Regions from separate parts of the Homo sapiens genome. Here region 2 is linked to region 1. Evidence: fine-mapped expression QTL. Tissue or cell type: whole blood. Region 1 holds a variant in brackets; the other region holds the start of a gene. All regions are shown on one strand. Distances are between the middles of the regions.

Region 1 (4,236 bases):
TGCTCTCCTCGGTACTGTGGGGTGAGGAGAGGCACACTCTGCTTTGCTTTCTGCACAAGACAGCCCCGGGGTGGGGCCGGGCGCTGCGGGTCAGAGCCCTGACCGTTTGCAGAGGAAAGGAAAGGGACAGGAAACTGGAGCATCAAGGCCCTGCTTTGCAGGGGACACCAGGACTTAGCCATGGCAGGGGCTCTGCCAATGCTCTTCACACATGGCCTGGCGAGGTCCTTCTCCTCACATACTCCGGGCAATGCCAGTGCCAGGTTTTCCTTTGGTCTCATCCCTCCCCTGTGCAGAAGAGCATTTGCTGGCACTTGGATGAGCAATTTAAAGGCACTGGTCCTCCACATATATTTGAGACAGGGTCTTGCTCTGTCAATCAGGCTGGAGTGCAGTGGCACAGTCACAGCTCAGTGCAGCCTCAAACTCTTGGGCTCAAGTGATCCTCCCTTCTCAGCCTCCTGTGTAGCTGGTACTACAGGCATGCACCACCACGTCTGGCTATTTTTTTTTTTTTTTAATTTTTGTGGAGATGGCATCTCTCCATATTGCCCAGGCTGGTCTCGAACTCCTGGGCTCAGGTGATACTCCTGCCTTGGCCTCCCAAAGTCCTGGGATTACAGGCATGAGCCATTGCACCTGGCCTCCTACGTATTCTGTAAACAGGTGAACCTTTCTGTGTTTGTACATACTAGTGTATGCACACGTGTGTGTGCGTCTGTGTGCCGTCCATCTCCCCTGGCGAGGGCCCCTTCTGCCTAGTACCTCCAACAGCTGGACCCTCCAGCTGGTCACCTTATGTAGGAGGCTTCTCTCCCCCATGGGCGGAGTGCAGGGCAGGGTGGCCTGGGGTGGAGGCTGCAGGCAGGCCAGTTCCCCATCCAGCCTCAGCCTCCTTCCTGCTGGGGAACCAATCATAGGGGAGGAAACTGAGCTTTTTCCTTACAGCCACCTCAGGCTCATTGGCTGGGCCCCCTGTTAAAAAAAAAAATACAAAAAAGGGGGGGGCAGATTAACCAGAGAAAAGTCTGAGCATGTATTTAGCATGTGTTACGTCACACGGAAGCTCCATGAAGAAGTGAACACCTGAAGGCACCACAGAACCCGAGTGTTTCTTACGGCAGGCAGCTCGATGGGGAAACGTGATTGGGTGAGTGTTTCTTACGGCAGCTGGAGGAAGGTAGAAGGTGGCGGGGAAACGTTATTGGACGAATGTTTCCTACGGCAGCTCGATGGGGAAACGTGATTGGGCGAGTGTTTCTTATGGCACCTCGATGGGGAAACGTGATTGGGTGAGTGTTTCTTACGGCACCTCGATGGGGAAACGTGATTGGACGAATGTTTCCTACGGCAGCTCGATGAGGAAACGTGATTGGGCGAGTGTTTCTCACGGCACCTCGATGGGGAAACATGATTGGGCGAGTGTTTCTTACGGCAGCTCGATGGGGAAACGTGATTGGGTGAGTGTTTCTTATGGCAGCTCGATGGGGAAACGTGATTGGGCGAGTGTTTCTTATGGCACCTCAATGGGGAAACGTGATTGGGCGAGTGTTTCTTACGGCACCTTGATGGGGAAACATGATTGGGCGAGTGTTTCTTACGGCAGCTCGATGGGGAAACGTGATTGGGTGAGTGTTTCTTACGGCAGCTCCATGGGGAAACGTGATTGGGCGAGTGTTTCTTACAGCACCTCGATGGGGAAACGTGATTGGGTGAGTGTTTCTTACGGCAGCTCCATGGGGAAACGTGATTAGACGAATATTTCCTACGGAAGCTCGATGAGGAAACGTGATTGGGCGAGTGTTTCTTATGGCACCTCGATGGGGAAACATGATTGGGCGAGTGTTTCTTACGGCAGCTCGAGGAAGGTAGAAGGTGGTGGGGAAACGTGATTGGGCGAAGAGAACAAGGTCAGTGGAGTGAGCGGGGACCTGAGCCAGGCATGTCGTTCCAACCCCGCTCCATGGTCTCGCGATAAGATGCTCCTTTCCTCCAGGTACCAGCAGAAAGCAGGCGTTTTCTCATGTGGGAAAGATGCCGGCCCCCGCTGTTTGGGGTGGAAATCCTCTAACCCGCTGGGCCTGTGCGCCAGGGCTGAGCAACAGCGCGGAGCCGTGCATCTGTCGGGGGCGGGACGCGGCAG[C/A]AGGGCTGTGAGGGCTGCGTTTTCTCTGCCAGCCTGATCCGCATCCCCTGCCCCTCGGTCGTCTGCCAGTGTCCGTGTATCTTTTGCCCCAGCTGGTGCGGGTTTAGGGATGTCAGCCCCAGGAGTCACAGGTGAGCTGGTTCCAATGGGAACCTCGGCATCACCTGGGAACTGAAATATGCATTGTCAGCCCCACGGCAGACCTCTGAATCAGAAACTCCGAGGTAGGATTAGTGTGTTCTGTGTTCTAACAAGTCCCTTGGGTGGTTCAGATGCAGCAGGAGGACGGGGCCATGTCCGTTTTGTCCACTACCAAACCCAGGGCCTAGAACACTGCACCTGCACCAGCATCTGCCCGATTAATGCTCGACAGAGGAATGAATGTGGATAAGCACCATTATTCCAAAGCCCCAAAGGGAGAAGCATGAAGGTTTACTGTGCCCCGGGTACCAGGCTGCCACCCTTCTCACGTTCTTATGGCATCTTGACCACTCCTGAGGCACGTGCCTCACTGAATTCTACGGGAGAAACAGCTGGTAGCTGTTGACATACTGGTCACGGTGGTGGGAGCTGTACTGGGGCCCTCATGTTTTAAATTTCCAGTCATCCTGGGACGGAAGTGTTATCCCCATTTCACAGATGAGAAACAGAGGCACAGAGAAGCACCCATACTTTCAGGCACTAAGTAGCAGATCTGGGATTTGAAACCAGGGTCCAAAGTTCATGAGCTCTCCACTTGCGGCCTCTTCTAGGAACCACTTGGGTTATCTGGTATTTGGGACAAATCCAGTCCCTTCCGTATGCCCTGATTTTTACGGATGTCACAGAACACCTTCCACCTTCTACCAGGAAAGGCTCAGTTCTGAAAGCTAACTTGTAAGTTGGTTGCTTGGGACTAAGAAAGCAGTTTCATAAAGAAAGGATTTCTTGGTTCCCAGACCAGCCCACAAAGAACCCTTGACTCCAAGGCAGCCGCAGGCTCCCGTGAGGGATCTGCAGCCCACCTCAGCTCTGAAGCTGACACTTCCACGATGACGTCGTCTTAATGAATGCCTTCTAGGAAATGCATTTGGAATCCACCCTGGGGCTGCAGGGACTGGGTCTGGCCCAGTCATGGGGTTCTGGTGGGGGCTGAGTGTGGGGGCTCATCTGCATCAGGTCTGAGAGGGCTTTGGTCCTACAGAGGCGTGGGTAGCGCACCTGCAGCTTAGAACTGCGGGCAGAGGCCCGAGCCACTCCCAGGCTGGTGTTCCCAGGTCGGGTGTGGACCTAGGGACTGTGGGGCAGCCCACAGGCTGTCTTTTCTCTGCCAGGCAGGTGTTTACTCACTCATCTGCTATGGCCCTGGGCTCACTGCCGCCGCCCCCCGCCCTGTGGGTTTGTCAGCAGTTTGATGTGTATTTTTCCATAAAAATTCATTGTTATACATGAAATATAGTAGGTTTTAAAAGGGTAACTGTCCTACAAAGTTTATAACATAAAGCAGGAATCCCCTGCTCACCTCGAGACACCTTAGAACTCTTTTAGTTCCTTGGTATCTAAAACCTCATGCGGATTCTATGTCTTGATTTTGTAATTTTATACAGCATTATGTACTATAAAATATCACGATGTAGCTCTCACTTACGATCTCCCTGAGACACATATGCTTCTTGTATATCCTTGTGCACCTCCTCTGTCCTCATCTGGGCTGGCTGGACCAGCCACCCAGCTCCACCATCACCCTGAGGATTCTCTCCTGTGTGAGGGCTCCAGTTTCTTGTGCCCATTTTCTCTTGGTTTTCTCCCTTGTTTGGTTGGAGCACATCCTACAGTAGCTGCCCGAGAAAGAGGGCAAGGGAGGTGATATTTTTCAAGAACTCACATGTCTGAACATATCTTCATTCTAACTTCACACTGCACGAAGTTCTAGCTGGATAGAAAAGTCAACTTAGAAATTGTTTGCCCTCAGAATTCAGAAGCTCTTGCTTCTCTGTGCTCGGACTTCAAAATTTGCTTTGAGAATTTCAGCGCCATTTAAATTCCTGATCCTTTGTATGTGACTTTTTTTTTCTCTCTTTGGAAGGCTTTGGGATATTTTCTGATTATCCTGG
Region 2 (4,236 bases), 26 kb before region 1:
GAAAAAGAAAAAGCCTCTTGGCCATTCGCCATGCAGAGGGCCCTCTGTGGCACCAGGAGGGTGGCCTGAAGCTCTGCCCTCCCCTCTTACTTCCTTGGTGCAGCAGCAGAGATGCCAGAAATGGGAACAACTTTCCCATCCGTTCTTCTGGGGGAGGCTTTGGATTCAGGGCAGCCAAAGCAGTTACTTGGGTCCCACTCAGGGCCCACCCAGGGGATCACCAAGTCCAGGGTGAGCTTCGCACAGGGTGCCAGGGGCAGAGGGGAGGGGGGGTGGATCTAGGGCACAGCCCTGAGGGCAAAAAACTCTTCCGACCCAATCTCCCCAAGCTGGCAGGAAAGTGGAGGGACAAGACTGCTCCCCAGCCCCCACGCCCCAGGGCAGGGCCTTCATGTGCCAGGCGCTGGCCCGAGGGCCGTGGTCCAGGCCTCTAGAAAGTGCAAAGCAGGCAGTTTCCCCTACAGGGGCCCTGCTCTAACCGGCCACTGCTGATGGGCCTCCCCAGGTGGGGCGATGGGGGGTCTGTGCCCCGGGGGCACTGGTAATCCCTACCTTCAGCTTCTGGTGGCACATTTGATGCTTGGGAAACTCCAGGCCCGCAGCCCACAGGCCCTGGTGAGTGCCCAGGCCAGGCGCAGACATCCCTGCTGCGCAGGGGAGGGGCAGCACCAGCCCTGGAGAAGGGCCACATCCCGGGAAGGGCTGGGGTTTGACGAGACGCTGGTTTTCCAGGTCTCAGTGACAAGTCTGGAGCCACAGCTGAGCTAGGAGGGGGTTCTCACATGCCATCCCCACCCCGCGCAAACCGACTCCTCACTGGACTGCGACCTCTTCCGGCCTCGGTTTCCCAGCCAGTCCCGGCTCGGGCCGGACAGGCACCCTCGGGGACGGGAAAAGGCGCCAGGAGCGCCCACCGGCCGGGCCTCGGTCCCGGGACTCCGGCGCTTGCCTGCTCCCGGGGGCTCAGGGCTCAGTCCGGGAGGAGGGGGAGCGGGCTGGGGGGCCCTCTCTGCCCGGGGGCCGCGGGCGTAACAGGTGGGCGAAGGTGCGCGGCCCTGGCGAGGGCTGCGGCGGGGTCCATGGACACCGGAGGAGGAAACGCCAAGGTTTTTCCAAAGGACAAGCGGCCCCGCGGTCCTCCTGGTCCTCTGCTCGCGCGCCAGCAAAGCAGCTGCGCTCTGCGGGCCGCCGGGACCACGCGGGAGGCCGGGCCGCTCCCAGCCTCGGGCCCCTCCCCAGCTCGCCCCAGCCCCGACCCTCGGCCGCGAGGCCCTCCCGGAGCGGCTGGCGAGCGGGGAGCGACCGCGCGGCCGGCAGCAACTGGTGTCTCCCCGGGACGCAGCTCCGCCCTTCCCGGGAACAAAAGCAGCCGCCCGCGCCGGAGCTCCGGGAGGGCGGGCTGGCAGGGAGGGGGCGCGGCGCCGGCTCCGAGGAACCCGGCCCCGGAAATGGGACACCCCCAGGGGGTGCCCCCGAACTTCCCTCCTGTCCGGCCTGGGTCGGGGGAGGGCTCGAGGCCGGTGGGCAGGGCGCGGAGAGCGCACCGAGTGCGCCAGGGGCCCGCAAGCCCGCGGCGGGGTTGTGAACCGAGGCAGAGCGCGAGCGCGCGAGGGGGACCGGCGGAGGGAAGCCGCGAGGCCGTGGGGGGGCCGAGCCCGAGCCAGGGGAGGGGGCGCGAAGTCGGCGCGTGGGAAACTTACTGCAGTCGTCCGACTCGTAGCCGTCGGCGTCCGGCTCGTCCTCCGGCGGCTTGGCTGGCGGCCGCGCGGGGCTGGGACCCGGGCTGGGGCCCGGGCTGGAGCCGTAGGCTCCGAAGAGCTGGTCCACATCCTCGTCGTCCTCGCGGGCGCCGTCGGAGGGGCTGCGGCGGCCGGCACCGGCCACAGCCGGGCGCGCGGGGGCGTCCGGGGGTGCAGCGGCTCGGGGCCCGGCGTCCGGGGGCAGGCCCCGCGGGAAGCGGGGGAAGTAGTCGGAGATCTGCTTGATGGGACGGATGGGGCCGGGGCACACGTCGATGGCCATATGCTCCTGGATGCTGATGGTCGCCTTCTCCCCGCGCCGCCGGAGGGTCATGCAGGCAGCGCCGCCCCGCCCCGGGCGCGGCCCGGCCCGGCGCGACCCCGGCCCGGGGGCGGCTCAGCAGGCCCGGCGGGGCGCGGCGGGGGCTGCGGGCATCGCCGGCCGCGCCCCCGGACGGCCCTGACTTGGCCGCTGCCCGCTCCGCTGCGGACGGCGCGAGCGAGTGCCAGAGGCCGGCAGGCAGGGGGCGGGCCCAGCCCGCGTCACCCGGCAGCAACCAAGCAGGGTGAGTGTGCGGGCTGCGCGGGCGGCGCGGAGCGGAGGGAGCCGCGCGGCGCCACACTCACTCGCACTCGCACTCACACCGGCGTGCACGCCGGCCCGGGACCCCGCGCGCGCACACTCGCGGCCAGGCAGGGCCGCCGGGCGCCTTCCGCTCATGCACGCCCGCGGCACAAGCTGGGAGTCAACCCGGCAGGGACCCGCAGGACGCGCACCCACACGTTCCCGCGCGTGCCAGCCCACGCTGGGCTCCGCTCGCTCTCTCGGGACACACGCAGGTGTGCAAGTGCACACATGCGTGTGCAGAGACACGTGGTGGAAGCATCCGCTCGCTCACACCGTAGGTCACACACGCAAACGTCTGCATGCGCACATGGTTGTTTTAGGAAGCTGTGACACAGTACACCCCCAATGCACAGGCGCGCACACCTGATGGAGCACACACACAGGTGATCAAGGGCACCCAGGGCACAGGCTTCCCTACCCCCAAGCACCCCTAACAAGATGCACAAACATGAGCCCATAGAAGTGATCAGGGGACCCTGGGCACAACTCCTTCTCTCCTCCCCCTCTAGCAGGACGTGGAGTCACACTCCTAGCATGTAGGGACAGGTTGCCTACACACGGGCAGGACATGTACACGCTCAACTGCACAAGGACACCGGGGCTCAGTCTGTGCACACATATTCTCAGGTCACATACAACACAGCACTCTAACCTCGGGTCAGTCCCTCACTTGGTCAGTGAGTACAGTCTGAAGGACCCCCCGGGGCAGGGTGGCTGAGAACCTGCACAGGGCCTGGTCAGGAGGGAGTGAGGGCAGGGCCTGGGCGGTGAGTGATGCAATAAGGCTGGGCGGCACGCTCCCCCCACCCCCACTCCTACTCTAGGCCTCCCACACGGTCAGATCACTAAACAAATCCCAGAGGGCCCAGCCCTGGCTGTCCGGCTTTCCGGGACCAGAGCTCTGTTGGGAACTGCTGCTGCTTGGACAGGTGTGTTCCCGGAAAGCCCTGGGCATGGATGGAATCCTGTTTACCCTCTGGTTTCCACTGATGTGTAAGACACTTAGCTTCTTAGTGGGTGCCTTTGGTGCATCTGAATGAGGGGCTCCAAGCCTCTCTTGTTCCCCCACCATAACCCCTGCAGAGTGATGGGGAGCAGAGGAAAGAGAGGCAAAGCCTTGGCCTGTGGCTTCCAGCTGCACAGTTCTGGCAGGCTATTTGACCTCTTTGAGCCTCGGTTTCCTCATCTATGAAGTGAGGCTATTTCCAACTGCACAGCCTTGTGGCAAGGCCCCATCCAGCACAGACAGGTAAGAGGTGCTCAGCTGGCTTTCCCTTCTCCCTTCCTTTGGAAAGACAAGACTCATGGTGAGAAGTGATGAGAAATTCATGTTTTGTGGTGAGTTCTGAACTGGGTGGTGGCGGGCACTACCGGCCTTTGAAAACACTGGAGAAACACATGGCATATGTTGTACTGCGCCAAGAACATTCACAGCTGTCATCTCATTGATTCCTTAAACCACCCCACGATGTAGGCAGGGCCTGCTGTTCCCATTTCACAGGGGAGGAAATTAGCGCTCAGGCACAAGGATGTGTCCAGGGTGACTGCTGGCTGGCGGCAGAGCTGCGATGAGAGCCCAGTGTCCTGACTGTTCGATGCTTCCACTTTCCCTCCCTTCTCCCTTTCCTCCCCTCCACTACAGAGCTCAGGGGCTCAGAGCAGAGTTGGAAACACAGGTAAAACCTCGTTCCCAAAGCTCATCCTGAGGCTTCTTGGACAGGGGAAGCCCAAACTGAGGAGGAGGGGAAGGAGGGAAAAAAAGGAGGAGGAAGAGGAGGACGGGAGGAGGCCAAGAGCCTCAGGGGTTACAGTGGGAATGAACCAGCCGGGGTTCCCTAAAGATAGTCTGAGGTCCTGGTGGGAGAAATA

What was found. PIP is the estimated chance that this variant, and not a neighbour inherited with it, causes the effect.
Region 2: DOC2B starts here. The variant in region 1 is the best candidate, but not a certain one, in a credible set for the expression of DOC2B in whole blood (TOPMed, PIP 0.87).

The regions. Positions count from the first base shown.
Region 1 is chr17:205,224-209,459 of GRCh38, forward strand. No RefSeq gene overlaps it. Among named protein-coding and RNA genes, the nearest start is that of LINC02091, 20 kb to the left of the region's middle. The variant C/A (reference allele first, on the strand shown) is at 2,144.
Region 2 is chr17:179,407-183,642 of GRCh38, forward strand. It overlaps DOC2B (double C2 domain beta), which reads right to left and starts at 2,244. Exons shown (of 9, transcript NM_003585.5): 1 at 1,701-2,244. The coding sequence starts at 2,073. RefSeq lists enhancers at 600-1,166, 2,628-3,129.